7 linked regions of the Homo sapiens genome follow. The protein of the gene in region 1 purifies or fractionates together with the protein of each later gene. This does not show direct contact. Each region holds a gene or a part of one and is shown in the gene's direction. Other genes may lie near its edges.

Region 1 (4,202 bases):
CCTTCTCATCAGCTACACCACCAACGCCTTTCCCGGAGAGTACATCCCCACCGTGTGAGTTCCTGGGGATATGTGGGGTGGTGGGAGGAGGGGAGAGACCGTCACCAAGTCGACCCCCCTTTCAGGCACTTCCTGTGGGCCAGACCCTGTGTGGGCACCCACAGCCTCCAGCCCAGTGGAGCTGCCTGACAGTCCAGCCAAGAAGGCAGCACTGGCGCTGAGAGGTGCTGGGGGCTCCCAGAACCCGGGATGGGGTATGGAGGAAGGGGTAGAAGGGAGGAGGGGTGGCCTTTAGGCTGGGCCTCCAAGCAAAGGGACGTGGAGGAGAAGGCTGGCTCAGGCAAGAGCAGGAGCTGGGAGAGGAGCTTCTGCGGAAGCAGGCTGCTGGAGGAGGTGATCCAGAGAGCCTGACTCCAAGGAACAGGGACACCTGGGGACAAGGCATGCTGAGGGGTGGAACAGAGCTGTCTGCAGGCCTGGGAGGCCCTGCGCTCTATTGCAGGATGCGGAGGCAGGGCTGTCATCGGACGTGGAGGGAGCGTGTTGGTGTCAGACTCAGGAGGGAAGGATGACTGGGGAGGCACCAGCCCCTCCCTGGCCAGCCCTCAGGGGTCCCCATCACTCCTAGGACATTTCCCCGACTCCCTAGCATGGCACTCAAGGCTCCTGATGGCCTTCACTCAACCTCCCACCTGGCCTTATTACCCATTACTTTGCTTCACACTCTGCCTCCTCCGGACCCTACTGTTCGCCACAAGCTCCCTGCACATTTCTACCCCAGGGCCTTTGCTCAAGCTGTTCTCTCTCCCCATAGTGCTTTTTCTCCCCACATCCACCTGTCTAAAGCCTCCAGGCGCAGCTCCAGTGCCCCCTCCTCCGGGAAGCCTTTCTGATCTACCACGAAGGGGTCTCCACTCCCCAGAGTGACTTTATCTGATCTCTCCCATGACTATGAGCCTGTGGAGGGCAGGGAGCCATGGCCAGCTCTTTGTGGGTCTCCCATTATCTCAGCACAGTGTCTTCTACATGGTATGACACATGCATTACCTTACACACAACACATGTGTTTTGAGTTGACCTGACTTGGACATCGTGGGAAGGACCACAGGAAGATCGATCATAGCCACCATCTAGCAAAGGCCTGCCACATGCTGGCCCCTGCGCAAGATGTCACACATGTGTGATCTCATTTGATCCCCCTGGGAGATGGCTATTAGCATGCACAGGACACCCATGGGGAAGCTGAGCCTCACAGCCACTAAGAGGCTTGCCTCCCAGGCTTACACGGTCCTGTCCAGCTTCAGAGCCAAGGTCCATGCAGAACCTCGCGGGGGCCCTCATTTCTTGATCTTAATGAACCCCCCTTTCAGGGGCAGGGATCAGGCTCTCCTAGGAAGAGGAGGGCAGGCAGAAGGGAGAAGAGAGCCTGGAGCCGAGATGCTTCCAACCCACCCCAGAGGATTCCTCACTACCCAACCCCCAACCCCAGACTTGGGTGGGCTGGGCTCTCTCTGCTGCTGTCTCTCCCCGGGACACTCTGCTCAGCTGCCTTAGATGCCCTGGCCCAGGCTAGAGGAAGGCAGGCAGCCAGGAGAGGGCAGGGAAACCCTAGCAGAGAGCCTAGAAAGCCGCTTTTGCCCCAGCTCGGTCCTGATGCTGGTGAGTGCCCCTCTCTGGTCCTGTCCTTATATACAAAATGGGAACAAGGATTCCTGCCCACTCACCATCAACTATCAAACGTTTATCAGGTGCCTCTAAGTGCCAAGGGAGGGCTGGCTGCAAACCTGAGCAGGGAGGGAGAATTAGGTGAGGCAGCTCCTGCTCAAGGCCATGGTCACCAGCAGTGTGTTGTCACTGCCTCTGTCCCTGGGTCTCTGGATGCTGGCTTGAGACCTTGTCCCGCCTTTGTGCATCTTGGCTGAGTTGAAGGACCCACTTGCTGAAGGACCTTGGACCAATCACTTCCCCTCTCTGAGCCTCAATCTCCTTTTCTATAAGAGGTAGAGGCTTGGAAGTCCCAAGCTCCTTCCCCAGGCACCTCCCTTGTACGTTGAGATGGATGGCTGAGGCTGCTGAGGCCAGGTTATGGCCAGGTGCTCTCAGCAGCCTGGAGGTCCCTGATCCCTGGTGGCCCCTAGTGGACTTTGTTGTCCTGGACAACATCACAGAAGCTGGAGAAATAGGCCCGACCAGATCTACCTTCCCAAGTCTCTCCGAAGGATTGGGTGAAGGTATCCCAGTAGGGCCAGCTCTATGCGTGTGGCCACCTATCCAATTGCACAGGGCCCCATGCTCAGAAGGGTCCTGCACCTTGTTTAATACTCTGATGTCTACATCTTGAAATTCTTAATCATTTTTGAGCATGGGCCCTGTACTTCCATTTTGCACTGGGTCTTGCAAGTTCTGTGGTGAATCCTGCCTCACACCCTCATATGGCTTCAGGCACAAAGTTTCTCAGCCCCAGACGAGACCCCAGAGCGGGATCCTGCTACTGCCAATGCCTGTGCCCCTGTGAAGGGAGGGTAAAATAGTCACACTGGGCCCTTGACATTGGAGGGGGAAGAGGGAGAGAAGGTGGGTTGGGAAAAACAGGCAGCCCCAAATCTCTGGCACCTGAGATTAAGGTGGAGAGAGCTTCTGGGCTGAGGATGGTAGGTTTGCTGGGGGTTGGGGAGGCCCCTGCTGCAGATACAAGATCAGATAAGCCTGAGAGCTGGCTCCCCATGCTGCCAGCCATGAGGGGTTAACAGCAAAGGGATGGACCTGAACCTTCGGAACTGACACCTTCCTGAGCAGCCAATCAGTTGCCAGGACTCGTGGGGCTGCACCGTGATTGGCTCTTGCCGCCTGCTCTGTTGTATAGACCCTATATTGGAGCCGGCAGGGCCCTGTGAGTTCTTTGCATCAAATCCCCCGTTTCGCAGATGGGGAGCCTGAGTCTGCTCTGTGGATGGCCCCGTGCTAGGTGTTGGGGATACAGAAACATGGCAGGAAGACAGTGCCCTCGTGTGCCTGTGGCATAGAGGGGCGCCCCCTTACACCTCACCTCGTTAGAACCAAGCTCGACGGAAGCCCTGGTGAGCTTTTAAAACTGAAAGTTAGGCTGGGCGCCGTGGCTCATGCCTGTAATCCCAGCACTTTGGGAGGCTGAGGCAGGCAGATCGCTTGAGCCCATGAGTTCGAGACCAGCCTGGGCAACATGGAGCAGAAACCCCATCTCTACAAAAAATACAAAAATTAGCCGGGCATGGTGGTGCATGCCTGTAGTCCCAGCGACTCGGGAGACTGAGGTGGGAGGATCGCTTGAGCCTAGGAGGGTGCGGCTGCATTGAGCTGTGATTGTGCTACTGCACTCCAGCCTGGGCAACAAAGTGAGACCCTGTCTCAAAAAATAAAATAAAATAAAAAGAGCCTCCCAAAAAACAACTGAAAGTTAACCTGGCCTAAATCTCTCCTGTGGCTCCCTTCACACTTAAAACTCATCTTAATGCGCAAACCGTGAACAACAGCCCCCGTCTCCCCAGCCTCATTTACCACACCCCTTACCCACTTCACTCCAAGTACACAGACTGCCTTGATGATCTCTGCCTCCCCCGAACCTCTTCACTCCCCTTTATGACACCCAGAACCCTCCCTGCTTCCTGTCATTCAGTTCCCTGCTTAAACATCGCCTCCTTGACCCCCTGTCTACAGCAGCCCCCCGTCTCCAACCTGCCCTCTCCATCCCACCACCCTGCTTGGCTGTCTTCATAGGCCCCCCGACAGCCCGACTTCATCTTGCTGCTCCTTTGCTGCCACTCCTCCTCTTGGATGGAAGCTCCCTGAGGACGGGGCCCTTATCTGCCTCACTCCCTGCCATCGCGCCAGTTTCTAGAACAGAGCTGAGCCCATTCCTGTTGCTCCGTCATGACTGCCTCCCCGACCCCGGGGAGGAAGGCAGGGCTCAGCTCTGCATGGAAGAATGTGTGCTGCTAATTGAGGTTGAATCATTTGGCACTTAATTTTCACTTTCATTTGAAATCCTCTCTTCGGTAAACTGGCGAATCCAGCCTGGGATTCCAGTGGACAGGATGACATCAGCCTCCCTAGCTGTGTGCGCCAGGCCCCACCAGGTTCTGCCTGGCCTCTCGGCAGCCCCATCCCTGCTCCTGCCGCTGTGTGTGTGGGTGCCTCATGATGTCCAGTGGCTCAAGCCTCTGCCT
Region 2 (4,202 bases), on another chromosome or scaffold:
GTAGTGAAGTCCCAAGTCCTTTGTAGGATCCTGAAAGGTGCTGTGTTTTCTCATTTCTCTGCCAACTTTGGTGCCCAATATTTTTGTCATGCTAAAGAAATACTTCTGAAAGTAACTTTGTGATCAGTCTGTCACTATCCATTCTACATTTTTTATTCTTACACTCTAGAGATTTGGTTTCTTTTGAAACCTACATTTTTATTCAAGTCATCTGACCCTCTTGATCTCAGTAAGGAACTCAAGCCATGCTGTGTGTGTTTTGGAAAAGGTTCGAACTCTGGCCAGTGCAGGAGGACCAGACAACTTAGTCCTGCTGAATCCTGAGAAGTACAAAGCCAAGTCCCGTTCCCCAGGGTCTCCGGTAGGGGAAGGCACTGGATCGCCTCCCAAGTGGCAGATTGGTGAGCAGGAATTTGAAGCCCTCATGCGGATGCTCGATAATCTGGTAAGAATGGTGCCACCACTTGATGATAAACCTTTTGTTCTAAAAGCATCAGTGTTGGTGTTCTTACAGCAAGTGCGATTGCTGTCTTTTATGCAGTATCTGAATACCTTCACCTTCAAAGTCATGAAGAAGCACTAGGGTTGTTTAACTTCTGAGGTAAATTACAATAAAATGTAGAGGTGAAGGATTCCTGGTATTGTTTTATTTTTTAAAGATAACCTTGTGTTTGGACTCAGTGGGGACAAGAGCACAGAGAATGCGTAGGCAGCTGGATGACCAGCTGTGTCAGCTCAGTCCCCACCATCCCACAAGCAAGCGAGAGAGGTGGCACTTTTGAAATCGGTCAGTCAGGTATTTAGGCTTTTGTCTTAACAGCAAATCCTGGCTGTCTGGGGCCTGATGACTGTGTTCCATGGGTATCCACTCCCTGTCCACAGCGTGGGAGCCCCTCAGCTGCTTATTGCAGGGACACAGAGCCCGGCATGGTCCAGAAGGCGGGCTTATGGGGCCTGCAGCACACAGGGAAAGTGAGCCCACACTGTGATAGGAGGGCAGACACACAGGATGTGTTCTGTGTTACAGGGTTGCCGTGAAGAATTTCATTCTTTTGCAAGGACTGGAGAGAAAATTTTATGTGGAAGGTAGCCCTTGGAAATGACCTCAAAGAATAGGTAGGATCTTAGCCTGCGTTTGAAAGCCTGGAAAAAAACAGGATGACAGGATGAAGAGGCCACAGCACAGCTGCAGACAATGGGAGTGGGGAGATGGGAACATGCAACGTACGGTGCACCTTTCAGGTTCATCTTGACTTTACCAGGATCATTAAATACTCAGTTCTTAGAGCTGTATTAGAACACTGCCCTTGGGGTCTCAGTCCCGCAGCCACATCATCAGACACAGGGCTCTGGAACAGATCCCTTCCATGCTGCACATCAGACCTCTTAGATGGGGGTCACGATGGTCCGTCCTAACGCCACATGACCTCAAGTGGTGTAGATGTGAGGACATGTCAGTGTGGGGAAAGAAGGCCTCAGAGGGGCCAGTATCCTTGTATGCTGCCAGCCAGTACTGGACAAGTGGGCACGTTCCAGCCTAAGACAGGCGTGGCCCTTGGACCAGATCACAGATGAGATGGGTGGCTTCAGGAAGCAGGGTGGCTTCAGGAGGCAGGAAGTTTAACTTTCCTGAAGGTTTGGAATAAAAAGTATTCATAGGTCTGATTCAGGCTATGTTAAATGTTCTTACTGAAATTCTTTGCACTTGGGATGAATATTGTCCGCTAGAAAGGAGGAACTGAGGGTTTTCTGCCTGGGCGCGATAGTCAGTCAGTGGAGTAGACTCAATCAGTGACACAGGGACGAACAGAGAAGGCAGAGTCTAGCGTAACTTTTTGAGTTCATATAATCAGTGAGGTTGATTGCATTAATTGACTGTCTACTGTTGAGTCATGAACAGGACACAGTTCTTGCCCTCAGGAGTTTATGACCTAATAAGAGAGATGGACAAACGATTCCCAAATGAGCCCTGCCCCTGTGATCTGTGCAGTCATAGGCATGATGAGAGCTTGCAGGCAGAGGTGGGTGCCGATTGGTCAAGGAGGTAGGAAGAGGAGCAAAAGCTCATGAAGAAGGCTGAAGAAGCAGTTAGAGTTGGGTGGCCAGCCAGGGTAGTGAAGCTGCAGGGACTCATAGATGGAGAAAGCTTGAGAGTGGGGCAGCCATGGCCCAGGTGTGCGTCAGGAGCCAGGTCATCCAGCATGGCTGTGCAAGGTAAGGAGGGCTGAGGTTGGCCCAGTCACACAGCCCCTGCCTCCTGGTAAATACGGCGACATTTTGCTGCTCTTCTACTTACAGTCAGTGTGAGGGAGGAGAGAGGGGGGTCAGAATGCACAGCAGCCACCAAAGACTGTGCTGAAAGCACATCCTAGAAGGCGGAGAGGGGGAAGTCAAAATCAGGTAGAAACTCTGATTTGGTAGGGAAGGAAGATAAGGATGAATGATTAATAAGTAAAACATTCATTACAAAAAGCATGATGAATGTTTACTCAGTGTCCTTAATGTGTACAGATTGTTTTAATATTAGAAGGCCATATAGTTTATAAGAAATAAACTAGACAGCAATCACTAATCATAGTCCATGTTTTAATTTAGCATCGGGGTTGGCATATATGTTGTTTGCTAATAACTGAGTAGAGAATAGTTGCCAATTTCCACACTATAATATATGTTGCAGCCGAGCACAGTGGCTCACTCCTGTGATCCCAGCACTTCAGGAGGCTGAGGTGGGAGACCAGGAGCTTAAGACCAGCCTGGGCAACATAGCGAGATTCCTCTCCACAAAAAATAAAAAAATTTCAAAAAGAGAGATAATATTTCATTTGAACTTCTACAGTTAGAAAAAAAATGCTAAATTGTCCCCCCCCCAAAAAAAATCAAGATATAATTTCAGTTTCTCAAAGAAGGAACAAATCCATATATATTTTCTCTTTCTTTTTTTTTTTGGAGAGACAGGATGTCATCATGTTGCCTAGGCTGGTGTTGAACTCCTGGGCTGAAGCAGTCCTCCCACCTCAGCCTCCCAAAGTGCTAGGATTATGGGTGTAAACTACCACGCCTGACCCAAATCCATGTTTTTAACTACAAGCCAGATAGTAGTTCTGAGGTCTGAGTATTACTTCTGGTTTTGGTTTAACAGCATTTAAAGGGGAAGAATAAAGAAAAATCCATATGGTTTCAGGATAAAATGATGTTGATGAGTCCTGGGTGGTTTATTCTGAAGTTGTGGAGATTACTGAGTTCTGGCTCTTTAAGCAAAAGGAAACTTGAATTAATAAGAACTGTGTTTTTCTGCAGATAGTCTTTATGGCAGAGTCATTCTCTTTTATTATTCCTCAACAAAGCATGCTCAGAAATGGGAAAACTGCCAGTACACACATTTACCTTATCTTTCTGAGGACAATTATGAAAATAAAACCCAAAACAACTCCATTCATGATTGTTATTACCTTTTTAAAAAAATGTAGGCCGGTCACGATGGCTGATGCCTGTCATCCCAGCACTTTGGGAGGCCAAGGCAGGTGGATCACCTGAAGTCAGGAGTTCAAGACCAGCCTGGCCAACATGGTGAAACCCCTTCTCTACAAAAATTAGCCAGGTGTGGTGGAGGGTGCCTGTAATCCCAGCTACTCGGGAGGCTGAGGTAGAAGAAGCACTTGAACCCGGGAGGCAGAGGTTGCAGTGAGCCAAGGTCGAGCCACAGCACTTCAGCCTGGGTGACAGAGCAAGACTCCATCTCAAAAAAATAAAAGGAGGCCGGGCGTGGTGGCTCATATCTATAATCCCAGCACTTTGGGAGGCTGAGGCAGGTGGGTCATGAGGTCAGGAGATTGAGACCGTCCTGGCTAATACAGTGAAACTCCGTCTCTACTAAAAATGCAAAAAATTAGCCGGGTGTGGTGGCACGTGCCTGTGGTCCCAGCTATTCAGGAGGCTGAGGCAGGAGAATAGTGTGAACCTGGGAGGCGGAGGTTGCAGTGAGCCAAGATGGCGCCACTGCACTCCAGCCTGGGCAATGGAGTGAGACTCTGTCTCAAAAAAAAAAAATTAAATTAAAAAAATAAAAAAAATATTGAAAGAGTGATTAGTAATGAAGATGGCCCCCAAAAAAGAGCAGTACCCAGAGGGGAGAGAGAATTCTGAATTGAGAGGACTGTTTCTAGAGTACCACAGCCAGCAGGGCACAGGCCACTGAAGTGTCT
Region 3 (4,202 bases), on another chromosome or scaffold:
CAATATATGGGCAGATTATGCAGCCTACAGCAAAGAAAGCATTCACCTTAAGGGTTGGACAATTCATCAGACCCCCTTTCAGTGCTTTTTGGTTTGATAACCATCTGGCAGAACCACAATGGTAAGTCACATCTCCGTGCCTCCGTTTCGTTATTTGTGAGATAGAATAAAAGAACCAAAGGGACCTCTAGTTCCACCATGATAAGATATCTGGGGTTCCGTGTTCCCTCAGCTACTGAAAGGACAAGCTGATTCAGTACTCTCAATCTGATGTTCAATGGATGAATTCTGGGCAACAGAAAGGCAGCTTGGTGGGGTGGAAACACTCAGACTTTGGGTCAGAGAGATGTGCATGACCATGGACAAAATAGTGGACCTCCCTGAACCTCAGTTTCTTCATCTATAAAGTAATAACAGCCCTACCTTGTGGGTTGCTATGAAGATGAGCGAGTATATATATCATGGGCTTGGCTTTACGCCCAACTCAGGATCAACACTCAAAAAATAGCTATGATGATTAGTAAGCATATATATTGAGCACCTGGTGGGTTTAAGGGACCCCAGGCATTGGGATCCTGCCAATGTTTGTGGGTATCAGTGGATATATGATAATAAAAACTGAAGCCCCAGTGCCACTCTGTGGGAGAGGGAGGCATATGGAAAAGAGTATAAGATTTGGAAGGGGTGGTCTGGAGGTCTGGAGAAAGCTTCCTGAAGGAGGTGGGGTTTTCACATAGGGATTTTAAAATTAAAAGGGTCAGTGTTTCCTAATGTGGCTGAGGCTCTATGAATTGTAGTGTGTAGGGGAGATGCAGATTAGGGTCGGGGAGTCTGTGATGGTGGTTCTTGAGATGGAGTCATTGAGGCTTTGGGGAGATTAGCTCTCAGAACTGGAGAGAAAATTCCACGGTGGCAGGGTGTGGCTGCTCACGCCTGGAATCCCAGCAAATTTGAGAGGCCAAGGTGGGAGGATCACTTGAGCCTAGGAGTTCAAGACCAGCCTGGGCAACCTAGTAAGACTGTACTAAAAAGACAAAAAAATTAGCTGGGCATGGTAGTGGCACACGCCTGTAGTCCCAGCTACTCAGGAGACTGAGGTAGGAGAATTGCTTGAACGTGGGAGACAGAGGTTGCAGTGAGCCAAGATCACGCCACTGCTCTCCAGCCTGGGCAACAGAGGGAGACCCTGACTCAAGGAAAAAAACAAGGTGCCCAGGGCTGGGGTGGGGGAATGTGGGTGTTCCCAGCATGGTGCAGCTTGGGACAGGATCTGAGGCAGGAGCGAGCTGGACATGGCGGGGTTAGGAGCCCAGCCATTCAAGGGCAGACCCAAAAGCACCTGGTGTCAGTGTGGCCAGAGCTTTGGAGTGTGGTCGTCCAGAGAAGGGCTGAGGAGGGGAGCGTGGCCTGCCCAGGAGGGTCCTCAGGGTGTCCCCCAGGCCTAGAGAAGGTGGGGGAAGAGGCATGGAGGCTGTCCCCCATCTGGTTTTCCTCAGGAACCCATGTTTGAAAGGAGAGGAGGGTGCTGCCTGGGGTTTTAACACCACTGCCCTGTGGAAAGCTGAGAGGGGAAGGGGACTAGACTCCCTGTGGTTAGAATTCCCCCCCTTGCAGGGAGGGAGGGGAAGAGCCACTCCTAGCCACCCTCAGGCATCATCTCTGAGATGCCTTCCCTGGTTTCCTAGGGAGAACCAAAGTGTGTTCCATGATCTGTGTGTCTCCTCCACCATGCGGTGAGGCCCTCGAGGGGCCAACAACATACTTATCACCACCTCCAGGGCCCAGCCCAGCACCCAGCGCTGAGCGGTCGCTTGGGATACTCTGGACTGTAGAACTGAGGGGAACCGGCTTCAGCCCTGGCTTTAGGCTCCCTGGAAGGGGAGTTTGCATCCTGGGAAGGGATGTCTGGCCAGTGGGCTTGTTCTCCAGCAGCTAGAGCTGGTGGGAGCAACTGCTGAAGGTTAAGGCTTCTGTGGGGCTGGTGACCCCTGTGATGCTGGTGGCTGCTGTGGAGCTGGCTCAGCACTTAGCTCAGAGCCCTTCACTGTTTTTTTTTTTTTTGAGATGGAGTCTCGTTCTGTCACCCAGGCTGGACTGCAGTGGCGTGATCTCAGCTCACTACAAGCTCCACCTCCCGGGTTCACGCCATTCTCCTGCCTCAGCCTCCCGAATAGCTAGGACTACAGGCGCCCACCTCCACGCCCGGCTAATTTTCTGTATTTTTTAGTAGGGACGGGGATTCACCATGTTAGCCAGGAAGGTCTCGATCTCCTGACCTCATGATCCGCCCGCCTCAGCCTCCCAAAGTGCTGGGATCACAGGCATGAGCCACCGCACCCAGCTCAGAGCCCTTCACTCTTAAGGGAAGTGGGAGGAATCGTGTCTCCAGTTCACTGGACTTCTCAGGAGGGGACGTAGATGACCCCTATTCCAGGAAGTGCTGCTTCTTCACACCCTTTGAGGCAGAGGCCCTCTTCAGGGCTGCTGAATGCAAGCTTTGCTCTAGCTGAAATGGAAGTCATTCCTACATAATCAGAGAAAGAGAATGGCATTGCCCTGCCCATCCCTACCCACCAGCCTGAGCCTGCCTGGACACTTTCACTGGACCTCAGCCAGGAGCTCTTTACCCAGCTCTGGGCTCATTTCCTATTTGCACCCACTGGCCATGAAGCAGGGCAGGGAGCTCAGCTGGTGGGGTTTCCTGTCCCGGACCCAGGAACATGGGCTAAGTTGGATGGGCCTCTCTTTATCATGTATCCTGTCTGCTCTATGGGGCTGTTAAGAAATCAAGTGATGTAGCAGATCTGGGATGGTGACTCCTACCCTGCACAGGCCAAATGACGGGGGCATTCTCTATAAGAAAAGCCTTCAAGAAAATTGACACAGAGGATCCCTTAAAGGAGCCTCTTCATATTTGCAGTAACATTTGCCATATGACTGCTTCGAGTCGGCAGCCTGCAGGCTGTGCAATGTGGAATTCGGTTGGCAAAGGGTACTTTCCACACCACTTCTAAATGAGCCAGAAAATCATAGGACACAGAATTCTAGAGCTGGGGAGCCTTCTGGAAATCATCTACTACAACCTGCTTGTTTCAAATGGGGGATTGCAGGCCAGGGAGGTGGGTTCATTCGCCCAAGTTCCCAGTGACTCTCAATAAATAGCTTTCCAGGAGGTGGGTGTGCACACGTGTGTGTGCGTGTGTGTGTGTGTGCGTGCATGTATGTGTGTGCATGTGCGCATACGTGTCAGCTGTAAATACCAGAATAGAACTCAGCCCTTTCAGTGCTGATTCCCTCCTGGGAATTGGAAAAACTCACCAAATCCCCTTTATATATTTTTTTATTTTACTTCTTTTTGTTCTGAGATGGAATCTCGCTGTGTTGCCAAGGGTGGAGTGCAGGTGGCTTGCTGCAACCTCTGCCTCCCAGATTCAAGACATCCTCCTGCCTCAGCCTCCTGAGTAGCTGGGACTACAGGCATGCGCCACCACACCCAGCTAATTTCTGTAGAAATAGGGTCTCACCATGTTGGCCAGGCTGGTCTTGAACGCCTAACCTTGAGTGATCTGCCCACCTCAGCCTCCCAGTGCTAGGATTACAGGCATGAGCCATCATGCCTGGCGAAAAACCTCTTTAAAAAGGACTTTAGGATGGTGACAAACCTATACTGTGCCCACATCTCTTTCCCTACCCCTCTACCATAAGGGTAAATTGAGGCTTGGGGCCATGTTGCTATTTAAGAGTTAGACTCCTAAGGGTGCCTGGAATACTGTGCCATAGCACTGGCCACCATGCATTGTGCCTAAATATGTCGGTGTTTGCCACTGGCCCACTGGCTGAGGACCCCCTGTCATTTCCACAGCCTCTAGCCAAATAGGTGGTTAAGAAATGTTTGCGGGATAATTGGCTGCACAAAATGCAGCGTTCAGCTGCAGATTCATCAGTGGCCCTTGCCCACATCTCCCGCATCCCAAGCTCTTGCATTGTCTCTGAGTCCTGGCCCTGCCCTGAATCGCTGGAGCAGCAGCAAGCACAGACCCTCAGCTAAGAGGGTCCCCCAGCTAAGGTTGGCCCCTGGGCCACCTCCAACCATCCCCACCCCCTTCCCCGACATATATCACCACCACCCTCTCTTCTTTTGTAGCCTTATTCCCCTTGGGAATAAGCCACCTCACACTTCCGAGGACCAGGGTGTAGGGTGG
Region 4 (4,202 bases), on another chromosome or scaffold:
CAGTGGATGAAAGGATAAAAGAAATTATGGTATATGTGATATAGATATTTAAGACTCAATAATATATATGACTGAATATTTTATTATATATATTTATTATATATTTGTTTATTTATAATATTTATTTTATATATAGTCTTAAGAAAGTGGGCCTGCCATTTGCAGCAATACATGTGAACCCAGAAGACATTATGCTAAGTGAGATAAACCAGACACACAAAAAAATAGCATATGATGTCACTTACATGTGGAAAGTAAACAAAGAATAAAACACAAAATGAAAGGTGGTTGAAAGGGATGGGGAATGGAAAGATGAAAGTCAAATGGTACAAAGTTTTAGTTATGTGGGATAAATAAGTGTAGAGATCCAGTGTACAGCATGAGGACTATAGTTGATAATATTGTATTATATCTGGGAAATTTGCTAAGACTAAAGATTTTCGGTACTTTGCCACCAAGAAGTAACTATATGAGATAATAGATATGTTAATTTGCTTAACTGTAGAAATCATTTCACTATATATATGTGTATCAAAACATGTTGCCATATACTTTAAATATGTACAATTTTTAAAAAGAATTCTCACATCCGCAAAATGGGGCTTAAGGAAGAAGAAAAAAGCATAGCTATCTCTTTATGAGATTTACAAAATATGGAAGGACACATGACATGAAAATCATATTTTGTTATTTCTGTAATATCCATAGAACTATTTTATGATTCTCTATTTCCTTTTATATCTGTACCTTGCACCTAAGGACATTTCTTCATTATCAGTTTATTTTTTCCTCCTCCCTCAATCAGCATGACTTTGTTCGACGAGACCGGCCACTACGTGTCCTCATTGACCTCATACAGAGGACAAAAGATGCAGTTCGTGAGCTAGATAACCTACAGTACCGAAAAATGAAAAAAATACTTTTCCAAGAGACACGGAATGGACCCTTGAATGAGTCACAGGAGGATGAGGAAGTAGGTTCAATTTATTTTAGCAGGCACTTATAGAATGCCCACTATGTGAAAAAGTTCTAGACTGGGCACTATGAAAAACTTTTGAAGATAAAAATTAATTGATGCTGTCCGCCTTAAGAAACATGAAGGGTTGTACAAGAGACATTCATAAAATAACACTTATATAAGGCAAAATATGAAAAGTGCTACAGAGGTGTAACCCCATTGCAGGGGTCCATCATGGGGAGAAAATAAGTCTGCTGGTGGGATTAGTGAAGGTTTCCTGGAGGACATGATGTGGGTAGTTTCTGACAAATGGGCATAGGGTGTTCTAGACTCAGAAAGGTGTTGTGCTTTAGGAAGATTATCCTAGCAACAGAGTGTAACATGGATTTGAATGGGCAACATCCTGGCTAATAGTCCATGCAAGAGGTAATAAGGTCAGTGTCGATGCAAATGGGGAAAAGGGAGCACTTTAGAGAAACATCGTAGAGGTAGATTTCATAATCCATGGCTTCTCATTGACAGTGACAGATAAGGAGGAGTTTAAGGTGACTCTGAGCATTGGAGCCTGGGTGGCTAGGAGTATGTCAATACCAAGAACAGAGAAAAAGAACCAGGGAGAAAGAGTAGATTTAGGATGATTTCAGTTTCGTGCCTTTTGAGTTTAAGGTCCTGGCATTATAAACTCTTGCCAGTATACAGATAGAAGTTTTCAGTTAGAGAATCCTTGATGACCTTAGTAAAAGCAGTTTTACAGGACTAGGTAGAATGAATAGTAGATTACTGGAGTTGTATAATTCATGGGAGTTGATAAGAGGGAGACAGGAAAAAATAATTATGTTAAGATTCAGAAATTGGGTTAAGAAGGAAAAGTAAGAGTGGGCAGCATGTAGAGAGATCCATAAATATAAGGCAGGCTTCTTCATCTTTAAATGCAGTAGAGATGGAGCCAGGGCAGAGTCAGAGGCACCGAAGATAGAAGAAAGGGATATAGTTAAAGAGGCAGGATTTCAGAACGTAGACATAACAAGAACAGGAGTATTTTAGCTTTTTAACAGAAAATAAAATAAACATAAAAGTATTTTATCAATAATTTTAAAAATGAAGCTCGGAAAGTTGCATTGAACTATAAAATTTCTTGATTGCATATATAGAAATGATCCCCTTTAATTGGGAAAATAAGTCTGTTAAAAATAATGTATTATCTTCCATTTTATATTACCCAGTAATTTTTTATATTGCCATGGCTAAGTAACAGTTTATTAAAGTTATATGTGTACCATATGGTTTTTTGAGAACAAGGTTTATTTGTAGCTAAATGGATTTAATTTTATTATTCAATCTTATATCAAAAGATATCCCACTGTGATGGATAAATTATATGTTCTGATTATTTTACCACTTTTCAAATAGTAGTCTTTGGGCCAGTAATGATGAATACCAGTATTATTTAACAGATATATATAATAAGATTACAGAGATAAGCATGATAGAATCGCTTGAGGGAGGCAGACTTTAATTACCTGTCCAGGAAAGTAGAATTAATATTTCTGCTTAGATATGAAGTTACTCAATAATGACTTGCAGAGGGAGCATATTGCTTGTCAAATATCTGAAAACTCTTTCCACTCTACTTTTTCAAGTGACCACTGCTGTATTTGAAGATATCCTAGAGCTCACCTGTTTAGTGGCCAGCAGTCTTCCTCTAGCTCCTTGATGTTCCAGAAGGTCCCTTACAAACCTGGCTTGATTTTGCTTACTGAATAGCAACACGATAATATGATAGTGTGTATGACAGGGGAAAGCCCTGGGATGGCAGCATTTGGAGCCTTATGACCCACGTCCAGAATGGCCCCTGGGGAAGGCATAGGAAGCAAATATGAGATGTATGAAAATGGTGGAGGAGTAGTGGAGCCAGTACATAAAAAGTTTGTCTTTGCAGATTGGCAGAAAAGCAACTTGACACTGCAAAATTGAGTGTGCTTGACACTTTTGTCAATGGATTGACTCTTTATCTTCAGTCTTTTTTTCTAACCTCAGTGCCCCATTTTTACAGGACAGTGAACATGGAACCAGCCTGAACAGGGAAATGGACAGCCTGGGCAGCAACCATTCCATTCCAAGCATGTCCGTGAGCACAGGCAGCCAGAGCAGCAGTGTGAACAGCATGCAGGAAGTCATGGACGAGAGCAGTTCCGAACTTGTCATGATGCACGATGACGAAAGCACAATCAATTCCAGCTCCTCCGTCGTGCATAAGAAAGTAGGTTTCTTGGTACCCTCCACAGAGGTGAGCTTTGTCAATCATAGCGAATCCAGTTCAAGTCACTTAGCTTCCAGATGTTTCAGTTACCTTTTTGCAACTGCAGTGTGGTACTAAACCTGGCATGTGACAGTTTTCTTACAGTCAAAAAGTAACAAAGGACTACACAGGCTACATCTGTGCCTATTTCTTCATCTCCCTCTCTCATTACTCTGATGTCCATCATCATCAATAAATAAGTTGAAGAATTTGATAAGTCCTTCTCTAAACCAATAATCTTAATACTGTAGACCTTCAAGTCTTCCTGAGTGTACCTGTTGGTTGTGCCCTTTTAGAAGTATGCTCTTTCAAAAGTATGTTTCTTGGCTGGGCGTGGTGGCTCACATCTGTAATCCCAGCCCTTTGGGAGGCCTAGGCGGGTGGATCACTTGAGGTCAGGAGTTTGAGACCAGCCTGGCCAACATGGCGAAACCCCGTCTTTACTAAAAATACAAAAAATAGCCGGGCCTGGTGACATATGCCTGTAATCCCAGCTACTCGAGAGGCTGAGGCAGGAGAATTGCTTGAACCCAGGAGGCAGAGGTTGTAGTGAGCCGAGATCGCGCCATTGCACTCCAGCCTGGGCAACAGAGTGAGACTCAAAAAAAAAAAAAAAAAAAAAGAAGAAGAAGAAAGAAAGAAACTTGCCTCGGGTAAAAGGAGGACTTACTCTAGCAGGGAGTAAGAAAAGCCTACCTGATGAGGTGACATTTAAGCAGAAATTTCAAAAACAAATAGAAGCTAGCCAGCTGGGGTAAGAGATGGGGATGAGTCAGAAAGCAACAAGTACAAGAGCACTGAGACAGAGAGAGCTTTGTATGTTCAAGGAAAAGGGGAAGGCCATAGAAGCTATGGCTGGTGTGCTATGTGGACAGTGCCTCAGGACCAGAGAGACAGCAAAGGACCCAGATTATCAGGAAGACATGGAAGCAATTTGAGGAAAGC
Region 5 (4,202 bases), on another chromosome or scaffold:
TAAATGTGCTGGGCTGTCTGCTTTGGCAGAATGTCTTGCTAATCCTAATTAAGGTAGTTTAAGCCTCCTATATATTTGTTTTCAGGTATTTGATTTCAGTCAAATTGTGAGAAGAGATTATCTGTAAACTTTAACATTGAGACATTTAGGCTGGGAGTGATGGCTTACGCCTGTAATTCCAGCACTTTCAGAGGCCAAGGCAGAAGGATTGCTTGAGCCAGGAGTTCAAGACCAACCTGGGCAACACAGCAAGACCCTGTCTCAAAAAAAAAAATTAATTAAAATTTTAAAACTACAATATTGACACATTTAAAATTTCTTAAATGTCTTAGGTCCTATTTCTTAGGGAGAAATTTGTTTTTTATCTCATTGGTGTTTTGGCAAAGTAAAAATTTTACTGTGACCTTCAGTCAATTTTAGGCCATAAAATAACCTATAACTTTCCTTGCAGTATTTCAAAATAACAATGTGTTGATATTTATTACTGTTTTCCCCTCTGCCTTCACATCTGTTTTATAATTGCACAATGGATAGGATGATACCATTGAAGGCTTGTTTTTGGACTAATTCTTTGCATGTATCATCCTTCATTTTCCCAGTACACGAAGGAGAGTGATTTCAGCATTAGAAGTTGGGATTTGTATAGTTCAAGGATTTTAGTATTTTTAAGGCTTTTTCATCATAGTTTTTAATTCTAGTCACCACACATCTCTAGCCCTAGCATTCTGTAACCAAGGAAACGCCCTACTTTTAGCATGGCACAGTACAAGTGTACCTTTTAAAGAAATATTCCAGGTTGAATACTCTGTGTATTCTGAGATAATATTCAAAAGAAGATCAGTGATCCTAGTGATTCAAAAAAGCCAAATTTTAACACATTAAAATTGCCTGAAAGTCTTAAGTATTTATTTTTAAAAGTCTTTATTTTTCCTAAATGATAAGCTGAAGCTGCCATTGCCATATATGGATGCATATACAGCTTAGGGAAACCAATGACTAAAATAAAATCCAACTGAAAAAATAAAGTTTAAATTTAAAAATTTCTGGCCAGGTACAGTGGCTCATGCCTGTAATCCTAGCACTTTGGGAGGCCAAGGCAGGAAGATTGCTTGAGGCCATGAGTTCAAGACCAGCCTAGGCAACATAGTGAGACCCTGTCTCTACAAAAAAAGTTTAAAAATTAGCCAGGCATGGTGGCATGCACTTTTAGTCCCAGCTACTCAGGAGGCTGAGATAGGAGGATTGCTTGAGCCCAGGAGTTCAAGGATGCAGTGAGCTATGATCATACCACTGCGCTCCAGCCTGGGCAACGGAGCGAGACACTGTCTCTTAAACAAAAAATCTGTGTTGCAAATGTATTTTTCAGGTGAGTTGACTAGCATTTATCTTAAGGAGTATCAACTACACTCAAAGCATTTAGATAGGCCAGTTTAGGTTAAGATACAAAGATGAGTAAGGTGTATCTATTGGGGGAACCAGCCCCCAATATTTCAATGTATGTTCTATTTTCCCTAAATGTCGGCCCATCTGAGAAATAGAGAAAGAGTACAAAAAGAGGAATTCTACAGCTGGGCCTCCAGGGGTGACATCACATATCGGTAGGTCCGTGATGTCCCCTGAGCCACAAAACCAGGAAGTTTTTATTAGGGATTTCAAAAGGGGAGGGAGTGTACAGGGAGTAGGTCACAAAGATCACGTGCTTTACAGGGCAATAAAGATCACAAGGCAAGGGCAAAGCAAAGATCACAAGGCAAAGGGCAAAATTAGAATTACTGATGAGGGTCTATGTTTGGCTGTGCACGTATTATCTTGATAAACACCTTAAACAACAGAAAACAGCGTTCGAGAGCAGAGAACCGGTCTGACCTCAAACTTACCAGGGCGGGATCTTTTCCGCACCCTAATAAGCCTGAGGGTACTGCAGGAGACCAGGGCGTATTTCAGTCCTTATCTCAACCGCATAAGACAGATACTCCCAGAGCGGCCATTTATAGACCTCCCCCCAGGAATGCAATTCCTTCCCCAGGGTATTACTATTTTTTTTTTTATTATACTTTAAGTTTTAGGGTACATGTACACATTGTGCAGGTTAGTTACATATGTATACATGTGCCATGCTGGTGCGCTGCACCCACTAACTCGTCATCTAGCATTAGGTATATCTCCCAATGCTATCCCTCCCCGCTCCCCCCACCCCACCACAGTCCCCAGAGTGTGATATTCCCCTTCCAGTGTCCATGTGATCTCATCGTTCAATTCCCACCTATGAGTGAGAATATGCAGTGTTTGGTTTTTGTTCTTGCGATAGTTTACTGAGAATGATGATTTCCAATTTCATCCATGTCACTACAAAGGACATGAACTCATCATTTTTTATGGCTGCATAGTATTCCATGGTGTATATGTGCCACATTTTCTTAATCCAGTCTATCATTGTTGGACATTTGGGTTGGTTCCAAGTCTTTGCTATTGTGAATAATGCCGCAATAAACATACATGTGCATGTGTCTTTATAGCAGCATGATTTATAGTCATTTGGGTATATACCCAGTAATGGGATGGCTGGGTCAAATGGAATTTCTAGTTCTAGATCCCTGAGGAATCGCCACACTGACTTCCACAATGGTGGAACTAGTTTACAGTCCCACCAACAGTGTAAAAGTGTTCCTATTTCTCCACATCCTCTCCAGCACCTGTTGTTTCCTGACTTTTTAATGATTGCCATTCTAACTGGTGTGAGATGGTATCTCATGTGGTTTTGATTTGCATTTCTCTGATGGCCAGTGATGATGAGCATTTTTTCATGTGTTTTTTGGCTGCATAAATGTCTTCTTTTGAGAAGTGTGTGTTCATGTCCTTCGCCCACTTTTTGATGGGGTTGTTTTTTTCTTGTAAATTTGTTTGAGTTCATTGTAGATTCTGGATATTAGCCCTTTGTCAGATGAGTAGGTTGCGAAAATTTTCTCCCATTTTGTAGGTTGCCTGTTCACTCTGATGGTAGTTTCTTTTGCTGTGCAGAAGCTCTTTAGTTTAATTAGATCCCATTTGTCAATTTTGTCTTTTGTTGCCATTGCTTTTGGTGTTTTGGACATGAAGTCCTTGCCCATGCCTATGTCCTGAATGGTAATGCCTAGGTTTTCTTCTAGGGTTTTTATGGTTTTAGGTCTAACATTTAAATCTTTAATCCATCTTGAATTGATTTTTGTCTAAGGTGTAAGGAAGGGATCCAGTTTCAGCTTTCTACATATGGCTAGCCAGTTTTCCCAGCACCATTTATTAAGTAGGGAATCCTTTCCCCATTGCTTGTTTTTCTCAGGTTTGTCAAAGATCAGATAGTTGTAGATATGCGGCATTATTTCTGAGGGCTCTGTTCTGTTCCAATGATCTATATCTCTGTTTTGGTACCAGTACCATGCTGTTTTGGTTACTGTAGCCTTGTAGTATAGTTTGAAGTCAGGTAGTGTGATGCCTCCAGCTTTGTTCTTTTGGCTTAGGATTGACTTGGCGATGCGGGCTCTTTCTTGGTTCCATATGAACTTTAAAGTAGTTTTTTCCAATTCTGTGAAGAAAGTCATTGGTAGCTTTATGGGGATGGCATTGAATCTGTAAATTACCTTGGGTAGTATGGCCATTTTCACGATATTGATTCTTCCTACCCATGAGCATGGAATGTTCTTCCATTTGTTTGTATCCTCTTTTATTTCCTTGAGCAGTGGTTTGTAGTTCTCCTTGAAGAGGTCCTTCACATCCCTTGTAAGTTGGATTCCTAGGTATTTTATTCTCTTTGAAGCAATTGTGAATAGGAATTCACTCATGATTTGGCTCTCTGTTTGTCTGTTGTTGGTGTATAAGAATGCTTGTGATTTTTGTACATTGATTTTGTATTCCCCAGGGTATTATTAATATTCCTTGCTGAGAAAAGAATTCAGTGATATCTCTCCTACTTGCACATCCGTTTATAGGCTCTCTGCAAGAAGAAGAATATGGCTCTATTCTGCCTGACCCTGCAGGCAGTCAGACCTTTGGTTGTCTTCTCTTGTTCTGTAAAATCACTGTTATTCTGTTTGTTTTCAAGGTGCACTGATTTCATATTGTTCAAACACCCATGTTTTACAATCAGACTTCATATTTTTCAAGCACACATGTTCTACAATCAGTTTGTACAATAGTGATCCTGAGGTGATGTACATTCTCAGCTTACA
Region 6 (4,202 bases), on another chromosome or scaffold:
AGGCTGGTCTTGAACTCCTGACCTCAAGTGATCTGCCCGCCTTGACCTCCCAAAGTGCTGGGATTACAGGCATGAGCCACCACACCTAGCCATCTTTTACCCCAGTCTCAACACATAATGAATATCACCATAACTTTGTTGAAAGAGAAAGTTGCTGTCATATTAAGGCTCTAACTATATATTGCTTAATATATTTTAAGGACGTTATACTCAATAATTAATCATTTCTGTCTACTTTGGACAAATGGCTGGTAGAAGTTTGTAACTTTTTTCTTTGAATTCTAATTTGAGGGAAAATCAATAGTGTGCTTTAACAAATGTTTTTATGGTCTTGCCAGCTTGCAGGTAAATTCCATAATGTGATTATATCATACTTAGGATTATACATTTTGGATTCATCTATTTATGAGCATTTCGTATTTCTCTTTTTATAGAGTATAAATCAACCTGTATTTTGGTCTCTACTGCCATGGTAAGTTTAGATTCTTATCTATTAATTAAAATCCAATTTATTTTCTGCCTAGATGCATTTGCTAAAAAGTGAAACATCAGTAGCAAATGGCAGTCAGTCAGAAAGTTCAGTGTCTACTCCATCTGCGTCATTTGAACCTAACAACACTTGTGAAAACTCTCAGTCCAGAAATGCAGAGCTTTGTGAGATACCACCCACTTCTGATACAAAGTCAGATACTGCAACAGGTAACTTTTAATGTACCTTTTTGAGTGCAATAGAAGCTCCTTCACTACATTTTAATATTTAAATATTAATATTTTAAAAATATATTGTATGTATTTTTCTTCACATTTATTTAACTTAAAATTTAAGAGTCATATTAAATACACATGTGTCATTTAGTGGCAGAAGACAATAAAGTCAGTGAATGTCAGCTCAACTCCCAAATAGTCAACAATCCAGAGCAATTGATTTATAATTTCTGCTATTGCGCTGCATGCTTCAAGGAATGTCATGACACTGAGCAGTTTTATAAATCTCTTACTAGCCTAGAGAATTTGGAAAGTTTCAAATGAACTAAAGTATTATATTTGGAATTGTTTCTATAACATGTAAAAAGCTATATAAATTTAAGAGAATAGTGTTATATATATTTTTTTTGATTAGAGGTAAAAGATAATTATGAAATAGAGCTTGTAGAAGTAAGAGGTGTGACTGTAAACTCATTGATAGAAAAGGCAAAAGAGAAATTTTTGGGATTGTGGTTGGAGTTGTTTGGTGTAATATAGCTTTGTATTAGGCAACCGAGGGGTAAATAAATCAAGATGTTAGGATATTAGTGTCCTAAAAGATGAATCTACTCCAGCATCCCACACAAATAATCATCAAGCTTCTATTTGAATGCATTCAATGATGGGAAGCTCATTACCTTGCTAGGAAGCCTGTTCTGTTGTTGAACAGCTCTAGTTTTTAGAAAGAGTCTTCCTTATATTGAGCTGAAATTTGATGCCCCATAACTTCCTGTTAACATTAATGCTGCCTTGTGGAGTTACACATGACAGGTTTTGAATATTTGAAATACAGCTATTTGTCTCATTTTGAGGTTTTACATCGGATGGATCATTCAACTTCTGGATGTGTACGGAACGGGGGGACTCTATTATGGATGTTCATTTAGGTCTACGACAGAATAATTACTTTAATTGTATTTACCTGGATATATATCATTTCCAAAATTCTTCATTCCATTTTGAAGATAGACACATGTTTCCCTCTGGTATAATATTCTTTCAGCCTGAAAATTTTCCTTTAGCATTACTTATTGTACAGGTCTGGAGTTTTCTTTATGTGAAATGACTTTGTTTTATCTTCATTCTGGAAGGATATTTTTGCTGGATATAAAAATTTTTGTTTACAGTTACAGGTATTGTCCACCGTCTTCTGGTCTTCATAGTGTTCTAATGAGAAGTCTCCACAAATTCTGATTGTTCCCCCCTGTAAGGAGTATGTTGCTTTTCTCTGGCTGCTTTCAGGATTTCTTTCTTTCTTTGGTTTTTAGCAATTTGACTGTGATATGCCTAAGTGTATTTTTCTTTGTATTTATCCTGTGTTTGGTTTGCCTAGTTTCTTACATCTGTAAATGTGTGACTTTCACCAAGTTTGGGAATTTTGGTCCATATATCTTGCTGGAATGAATTACATGTATATTAGGCTTCATGGTATTGTCCCACAGGTTTATTTTTTCACACTTATTTTTTCTTCTTTGGATTGGATAATTCTGTTGATCTGCAAGTTCACTGACTCTTTATCATCTCCATTCTGATGTTAAGCCCATCCAGTGAATTTTTTATTTTAGATAAAATTATGTTATACATTTTTTAGTTGTAGGATTTCTATTTCTTTCTCTCTTATTATAACTTTTTATTTTGAAATAGTTTGACTCATAAGTTACAGAAGTTGTGCAGAATGAGTACTCTTCATCTACGTTTTATTCTTTTAATTCATTTCAAGTGTATTTCCCTTTTCCTCATTTGAGTTATAATGGCTGCTTTAAAGTCTTTGTCTGACAGTTTCAATATCTAGCTCATCTGAGGATTGGCTTGTGTTGATCACCTTTACCCTTTAGAATGGGTCACATTTTCTTGTTTGTTCATATGTCAAAAAATGCTGGATTGTATCTTGTACATTGTTGTAGACACTCTGGATTTCATTATATTCCTGCAAAGAGTGTTGTTTTTGTTTTAGTAGACAATTAACTTGGCTAGACTAAAACTGCAAGCTCTGGCTTACCTGAGGTGAGTAGCAGCTCTAATCTCAGTTTTTTTTTAGCTTAAAAAAAATTTTTTTTTTTTTTTGGTCAGGTGTGGTTGTTCACACCTATAATCCCAGCACTTTGAGAGGCCAAGGTGGGCAGATTGCTTAAGCCCAGGAGTTTGAGACCCGCCTGGACAACACGGCAAAACTCTGTCTCTACAAAAATGTGTCTGCAGGGTCTGGCTCTGTCACCCAGGCTGGAGTGCAGTGGCACAAACATAGCTCACTATAATCTCCAACTCCTGGCCCACGTGATCTCCTGCTTCAGCCACCTGAGTAGCTAGGACTACAGGTGTGCACCACCACACCTGGCTAATTTTTTTTTTTTTTTTGAGATGGAATTTTGGTCTTGTTGCCCAAGCTGGAGTGCAATGGCACAATCTTGGCTCACCACAACCTCCATCTCCTAGGTTCAAGCGATTCTCCTGCCTCAGCCTGCTGAGTAGCTGGGATTACAGGCATGCGCCACCATGCCTGGCTAATTTTGTATTTTTAGTAGGGACGGGGTTTCTCCATGTTGATCAGGCTGGTCTCAATCTCCTGACCTCAGGTGATCTGCTTGCCTTGGCCTCCCAAAGTGCTGGGATTATAGGTATGAGCCACCACGCCCAGCCTAATTTTTTAATTATATTCTTTGCAGAGATGGGGTCTCACTATGTTGCTTAGGCTGTCTCAAACTCCTGTCCTCCAGTAATCCTCCTGCCTTGCCCTCTGAAAGTGCTGGGATTACAGGCATGAGTCATTGGATCCAGGCCTGTAGCTTTTTAAAACTATTTATTATGGAAAATTTCAAACATACATAGAAGTAGAAAAAAATAGTATAAGAAAACCCCATTAATCCATTGCCTAGCTTCATGGCCAATATTCTCATCTGTGCCCTCCACTCCTCTTCTTTTTCAACTTATTTAGAACAAATCTCAGGTAAAATATTTCAATATGTATCTCTAAAATATAAGAAAGGAATATAAATCTTTTAAGATTATATATAGTTGCCTTTTAAAATAATTTTTTTTTTTTGAGACAGAGTCTCACTTTGTTGGCCAGGCTGCAGTGCAGTGGCGTGATCTCGGCTCACTGCAACCTCCACTTCCCAGGTTCAAGTGATTCTCCTGTCTCAGCCTCCCGAGTAGCTGGGACTACAGGCGTGCACCACCATGCCCGGCTAATTTTTGTATTTTTAGTAGAGACGGGGTTTCACCATGTTGGCCAGGCTGGCCTCGAACTCCTGACCTCAGGTGATACGCCTGCCTCAGCTCCCAAAGTGCTGGGATTGTAGGCGTAAGCCACTGCGCCCAGCCAAAATAAATTTTAATTATGGAAATTTGCAAGCATATTCTAAAGTAGAGAGAACAGAATAACGAACTCGAGGTACTCATCATCCTGCGTCAGTGATTCCCATTATTTGCTCGGTTTTTGTTATCTGTCTCCCTATATG
Region 7 (4,202 bases), on another chromosome or scaffold:
TATTCAAGAGTGTAAAGAGTGTATTGTCTCAGGTAGGGAAATGTGGTAAACAATCCTTTGCTATTTTATTTGTACTACTTACTTAGCAGAGTTGCCCTTCTATTGTAGTTTATTGCAGAATCAAATTCAACTCCTGACTGGTTGAATTTTGATGGATTCCAGGTTGCAAGAGTAAAGGAAGGATGAGGTCCTGGACGGAAAATGTGGAAATTAAAAAGAAGTTTCCCCTCTTAACTCTGCTTACCATTCTCTCATTTAACTCCAATATCCCAAAAGCCAGGCTTCAACCTTCCAGAAGGACCCTTCTGGAAAACTTACCAAATCTCCAGCAATTGTCTAGGTATAAAGTAAACGTAGGCTAAAGCAGGAGGATCACTTGAGCCCTAGAGTTTGAGACCAGCCCTAGTAACACAGTGAGACCCCTGTCTCTACAAAATATAAAAATTAGCCAGGCACAGTGGCAGTGCCTATAGTTCCAGCTACTTGGGAGGCTAAGGCAGAAGGATCACTTGAGCCTGGGAGGTCAAGGCTGCAGTGAGCTATGATCCTATAAGTGCACTGCAGCCTGGGTGACAGTGCAAAACCCTGCCCCGCCTTTCCCCTCCAAAAAAAAACCCCAAAAAAACCCCCACAAAAAACCAACAACAACAAAAAAAAAGTAAATGTATATGTACTAGAAAAAAACAGAACACAAAAAACACCCTTAGAGATTTTAGTTGTTTCTTCCCTTCCTCTCTTTTTCTTTTTTTTTTTTTTTTTTTTTTTTGAGGCGGAGTCTCGCTATGTCGCCCAGGCTGGAGTGCAGTGGCGCGATCTCGGCTCACTGCAAGCTCCGCCTCCCGGATTCGCACCATTCTCCTGCCTCAGCCTCCCGAGTAGCTGGGACTACAGACGCCCACCACCGCGCCGGGCTAATTTTTTGTATTTTTAGTAGAGACGGGGTTTCACCGTGTTAGCCAGGATGGTCTCGATCTCCTGACCTCGTGATCCGCCCGCCTGGGCCTCCCAAAGTGTTGGGATTACAGGCGTGAGCCACTGCGCCCTGCTCTTTCTTCTCTTTTTCTTTCCTTCCCTTCCTTCATTCCTTCCTTTCTTCCCCTTCCCTTTCTTTTCTTTCTGACAAGTTCAGTTCCTCTGTTGCCCAGGATGGAGTGCAGTAAAATAATCATGGCTCACTGCAATCTCAAACTCCTGGGCTTAAGCAATCCTTCCACCTCAGCCTCCCCAGTATGTGAGATTGCAGATGTGCACCATCATGCCCAGTTCATTCTTTAATTTTTAGTAGAGATGAGGTCCCAGTATGTGAGATTGCAGATGTGCACCATCATGCCCAGTTCATTCTTTAATTTTTAGTAGAGATGAGGTCTTGCTATGTTGCCCAGGTTGATCTCGAACTTCTGGGCTCAAGCAGTCGTCCCACCTCAGCCTCCCAAAGTGCTGGGATTACAGGCATGAGCTACCATGCCTGGCCTGGATTCTTTGATTTTTAAAGTTCCAATTAATGAACTGTTGGGCTAAAGATGAAAAACCAGGCTAAGTAACCTATATTGATAAGCAGACATTCCTAGTTCATGTTATGAAGGAAAAACAATGGCGTCGATTTATCAGGACGTGGAGACGGGAGAGGAGAGGAGAGGGAGGCTAATTTTTAAAAACTTTTTGGAGAGACGGGGTCTCGCTGTATTGCCCAGGTTGGTCTTGAACTCCTGGACTCAAGTAATCATTCTGCCTAGGCTTCCCAGGCATGAGCCACCATGCCTGGCCCATCCCCCCACACCCCCAATTTATAAACCATTATTTCCCATTAACTAGTCTTGTCAAAGGTTATCACTGGACTTTTCTGTGAAGGTTTAGAAAATTCCCTGGTTCTCGCCAGGCGCGGTGGCTCATGCCTGTAATCCTAGCACTTTGTTTGGGAGGCCAAGGTGGGTGGATCACCTGAGGTCAGAAGTATGAGACCAGCCTGGCCAACCAGCATGGCAAAAACCCATCTACTAAAAATACAAAAATTAGCCTGACATGGTGGCAGGCACCTGTAATCCCAGCTACTCAGGAGGCTGAGGCAGGAGAATTGCTTGAACCCGGGGGTTCAATCAAAGAAAATTCCCTGGTTCTCTAAACATGGAATTACTGAAATCTGGATTTAGGTTCAAACCTGCCTCTTGGGCTTTGCCTACTGCAGTAGCTCAACAGTTCTCTGGCTAAAAAATAAAAATCAGTGTGTAATTCAAGTTCAATTCATTTAATAAATACTCAAGTATCTACTATGTAGAAGGCACTATACATGGGGTTTTAAACAACTCGGACTACCAGCTTATTTATTAGTTGTGTGACCTTGGGCAAATTACTTTTCTACGACTCAGTTTTGTGAAACAAGGATACCACTTCTTAGTTTGTAGGACTGTTGTAAGAATTAAATGAAATGATATATTCAAAGCACTTGGAACATAGCAGGTGCTCAACAAATGTTAACTGTGACCCTCTGCCCTTCCCCGCAAAGAGGACTTAAACCAAAATAAACCTTTGTTTAAAATAATCCATATTTGTGAATTTAGGCATAAAAATACCCACAATTAAAGGACTTGTCAACTAGTTTTTGTTGCAGATTATAACTAGTATTTGATTTTTGGTCTGTATAAAGTAAAACTCTTGCAACCTGGAATCCATCAAAATTCAACCAGTCCTGAGTTGCATTTGATTGATTCTGCAATAAACTACAATAGAAGGGTAACTCTGCTAAGTAAATAGTACAAATAAAATAGCAAAGGATTGTTTACCACATTTCCCTACCTGAGACAATACACTCTTGAATAAATAACACTTTTAAACTACTCATTTAAAAATAATTTCCTGTTTACCTAAAAGTCACAAGAGTAGTATATTCTTTACCTGGACTCCGTAATTGTTAATGTATCGTCCTGTGTAATTTATTATTCTCTCTGAATGCACACACACAGGTATTTTTTTCCCCTGGACTATTTGAGAATAAGTTACATAATTCATGCTTCTTTATCCTTAAATCCTTGTTTTTCCTAAAAACATGGACATTCTCTTATAAAGCCAGCAGAGTTGTCTACTTCAGGAAATTTAAGTGACCTCGCCAGAGGCTAAGACTCGTGACTCCTATAGTGGTTGAGGAGAGATAGTTGCCTGCCTGCTGGGTGGGAACCTGGGGATCTGATTACTTGGAAGACTTCCTAGAGATCCTCGTCTTTTCAGCTTCTCATTCCCCTCCTGAGGTGTTTCCAATTCCTGAGCCTTTTTAGGACTCTAGGTCCAGTCAATTGACCTTTCAACCACAACTCTCACTGTAGTCACTTAACAAGGCCAAGGAGGCGCAAACCAAAGGCATTTACCATTCTTCCGTTTCTTCCTATATTGTGGTCTTTTCATTTCATAACAGAATTTAGTTTTTATTTTGTTCTCCTTATTTGTTTGGAGGAGTTATTAAGTTAGAAAGCAGATAACAAAATAGTCCAGCAACTCGATCAACAAAATTTTCATTTTTCATTGGGCATCTTTTGTTAAAGTAAACTGTATCTATACATAATCATTCATATACATTGAAAAGAAACCAGAAGTATGTATACCAAAATGTTGTGGTTGGTTGGTTCGTTTTGAGACAGAGTCTCGCTCTGTTACCTAGGCTGAAGTGCAGTGGTGCAATTTCGACTCACTGCAACCTCTGCCTCCCGGGTTCAAGCGATTCTCTTGCCTCAGCCTCCCAGGTGGCTGGAATTACAGGCACCCGCCACCACGCCCAGCTAATTTTTGTATTTTAGTAGAGGTGAGTTTTCGCCATGTTGGCCAGGCTGGTCTTGAGTTCCAGACTTCAGGTGATCCACCCACTTCAGCCTCCCAAAGTGCTGGGATTACAGGCATGAGCGCCCAGCCTGTTTGTATTTTGAGACAGGGTCTCACTCTGTCGCCCAGGCTGGAGTGCAGTGACACGAACACAGCTCACTGCAACCTCAACCTCCCACCTTAGCCTCCCGAGTGGCTGAGACTGCTACCACGCACCATAATGCCTGGCTAATTCTTTGTATTTTTTGTAGAGATAGGCTTTTGCCACGTTGCGGAGGCTGGTCTCAAGCTACTGCACCTGGCCTCAAAATGTTAACAGTAGGGCGCGGTGGCTCACACCTGTAATCCTAGCACTTTGGGAGACCAAGGCTGGAGGATCGCTTGACCAAAGGAGTTCG

The links.
Region 2: the proteins of RAC2 (region 1) and ADD1 purify together in Homo sapiens (affinity purification with mass spectrometry, with the first as the bait; one large-scale study listed by BioGRID). This does not show direct contact.
Region 3: the proteins of RAC2 (region 1) and PODXL purify together in Homo sapiens (affinity purification with mass spectrometry, with the first as the bait; one study listed by BioGRID). This does not show direct contact.
Region 4: the proteins of RAC2 (region 1) and TAOK3 purify together in Homo sapiens (affinity purification with mass spectrometry, with the first as the bait; one study listed by BioGRID). This does not show direct contact.
Region 5: the proteins of RAC2 (region 1) and RAP1GDS1 purify together in Homo sapiens (affinity purification with mass spectrometry; 2 studies listed by BioGRID and IntAct, with this or other methods). This does not show direct contact.
Region 6: the proteins of RAC2 (region 1) and UBXN4 purify together in Homo sapiens (affinity purification with mass spectrometry, with the first as the bait; one study listed by BioGRID). This does not show direct contact.
Region 7: the proteins of RAC2 (region 1) and SLC30A5 purify together in Homo sapiens (affinity purification with mass spectrometry, with the first as the bait; one study listed by BioGRID). This does not show direct contact.

The regions. Positions count from the first base shown.
Region 1 is NC_000022.11:37,237,439-37,241,640, reverse strand, and holds part of RAC2 (ras-related C3 botulinum toxin substrate 2), read left to right. Parts: coding exon 1-54; intron 55-4,202. UniProt on the Homo sapiens protein: Plasma membrane-associated small GTPase which cycles between an active GTP-bound and inactive GDP-bound state.
Region 2 is NC_000004.12:2,898,991-2,903,192, forward strand, and holds part of ADD1 (alpha-adducin), read left to right. Parts: intron 1-268; coding exon 269-445; intron 446-4,202. UniProt on the Homo sapiens protein: Membrane-cytoskeleton-associated protein that promotes the assembly of the spectrin-actin network. Binds to calmodulin.
Region 3 is NC_000007.14:131,549,796-131,553,997, reverse strand, and holds part of PODXL (podocalyxin isoform 1 precursor), read left to right. Parts: intron 1-4,202. UniProt on the Homo sapiens protein: Involved in the regulation of both adhesion and cell morphology and cancer progression. Functions as an anti-adhesive molecule that maintains an open filtration pathway between neighboring foot processes in the podocyte by charge repulsion.
Region 4 is NC_000012.12:118,198,067-118,202,268, reverse strand, and holds part of TAOK3 (serine/threonine-protein kinase TAO3), read left to right. Parts: intron 1-805; coding exon 806-973; intron 974-3,011; coding exon 3,012-3,218; coding exon of another isoform or gene 3,219-3,245; intron 3,246-4,202. UniProt on the Homo sapiens protein: Serine/threonine-protein kinase that acts as a regulator of the p38/MAPK14 stress-activated MAPK cascade and of the MAPK8/JNK cascade.
Region 5 is NC_000004.12:98,411,186-98,415,387, forward strand, and holds part of RAP1GDS1 (rap1 GTPase-GDP dissociation stimulator 1), read left to right. Parts: intron 1-4,202. UniProt on the Homo sapiens protein: Acts as a GEF (guanine nucleotide exchange factor) for the Rho family of small GTP-binding proteins (G proteins) that stimulates the dissociation of GDP to enable subsequent binding of GTP.
Region 6 is NC_000002.12:135,754,993-135,759,194, forward strand, and holds part of UBXN4 (UBX domain-containing protein 4), read left to right. Parts: intron 1-524; coding exon 525-699; intron 700-4,202. UniProt on the Homo sapiens protein: Involved in endoplasmic reticulum-associated protein degradation (ERAD). Acts as a platform to recruit both UBQLN1 and VCP to the ER during ERAD.
Region 7 is NC_000005.10:69,096,368-69,100,569, forward strand, and holds part of SLC30A5 (proton-coupled zinc antiporter SLC30A5), read left to right. Parts: intron 1-4,202. UniProt on the Homo sapiens protein: Together with SLC30A6 forms a functional proton-coupled zinc ion antiporter mediating zinc entry into the lumen of organelles along the secretory pathway.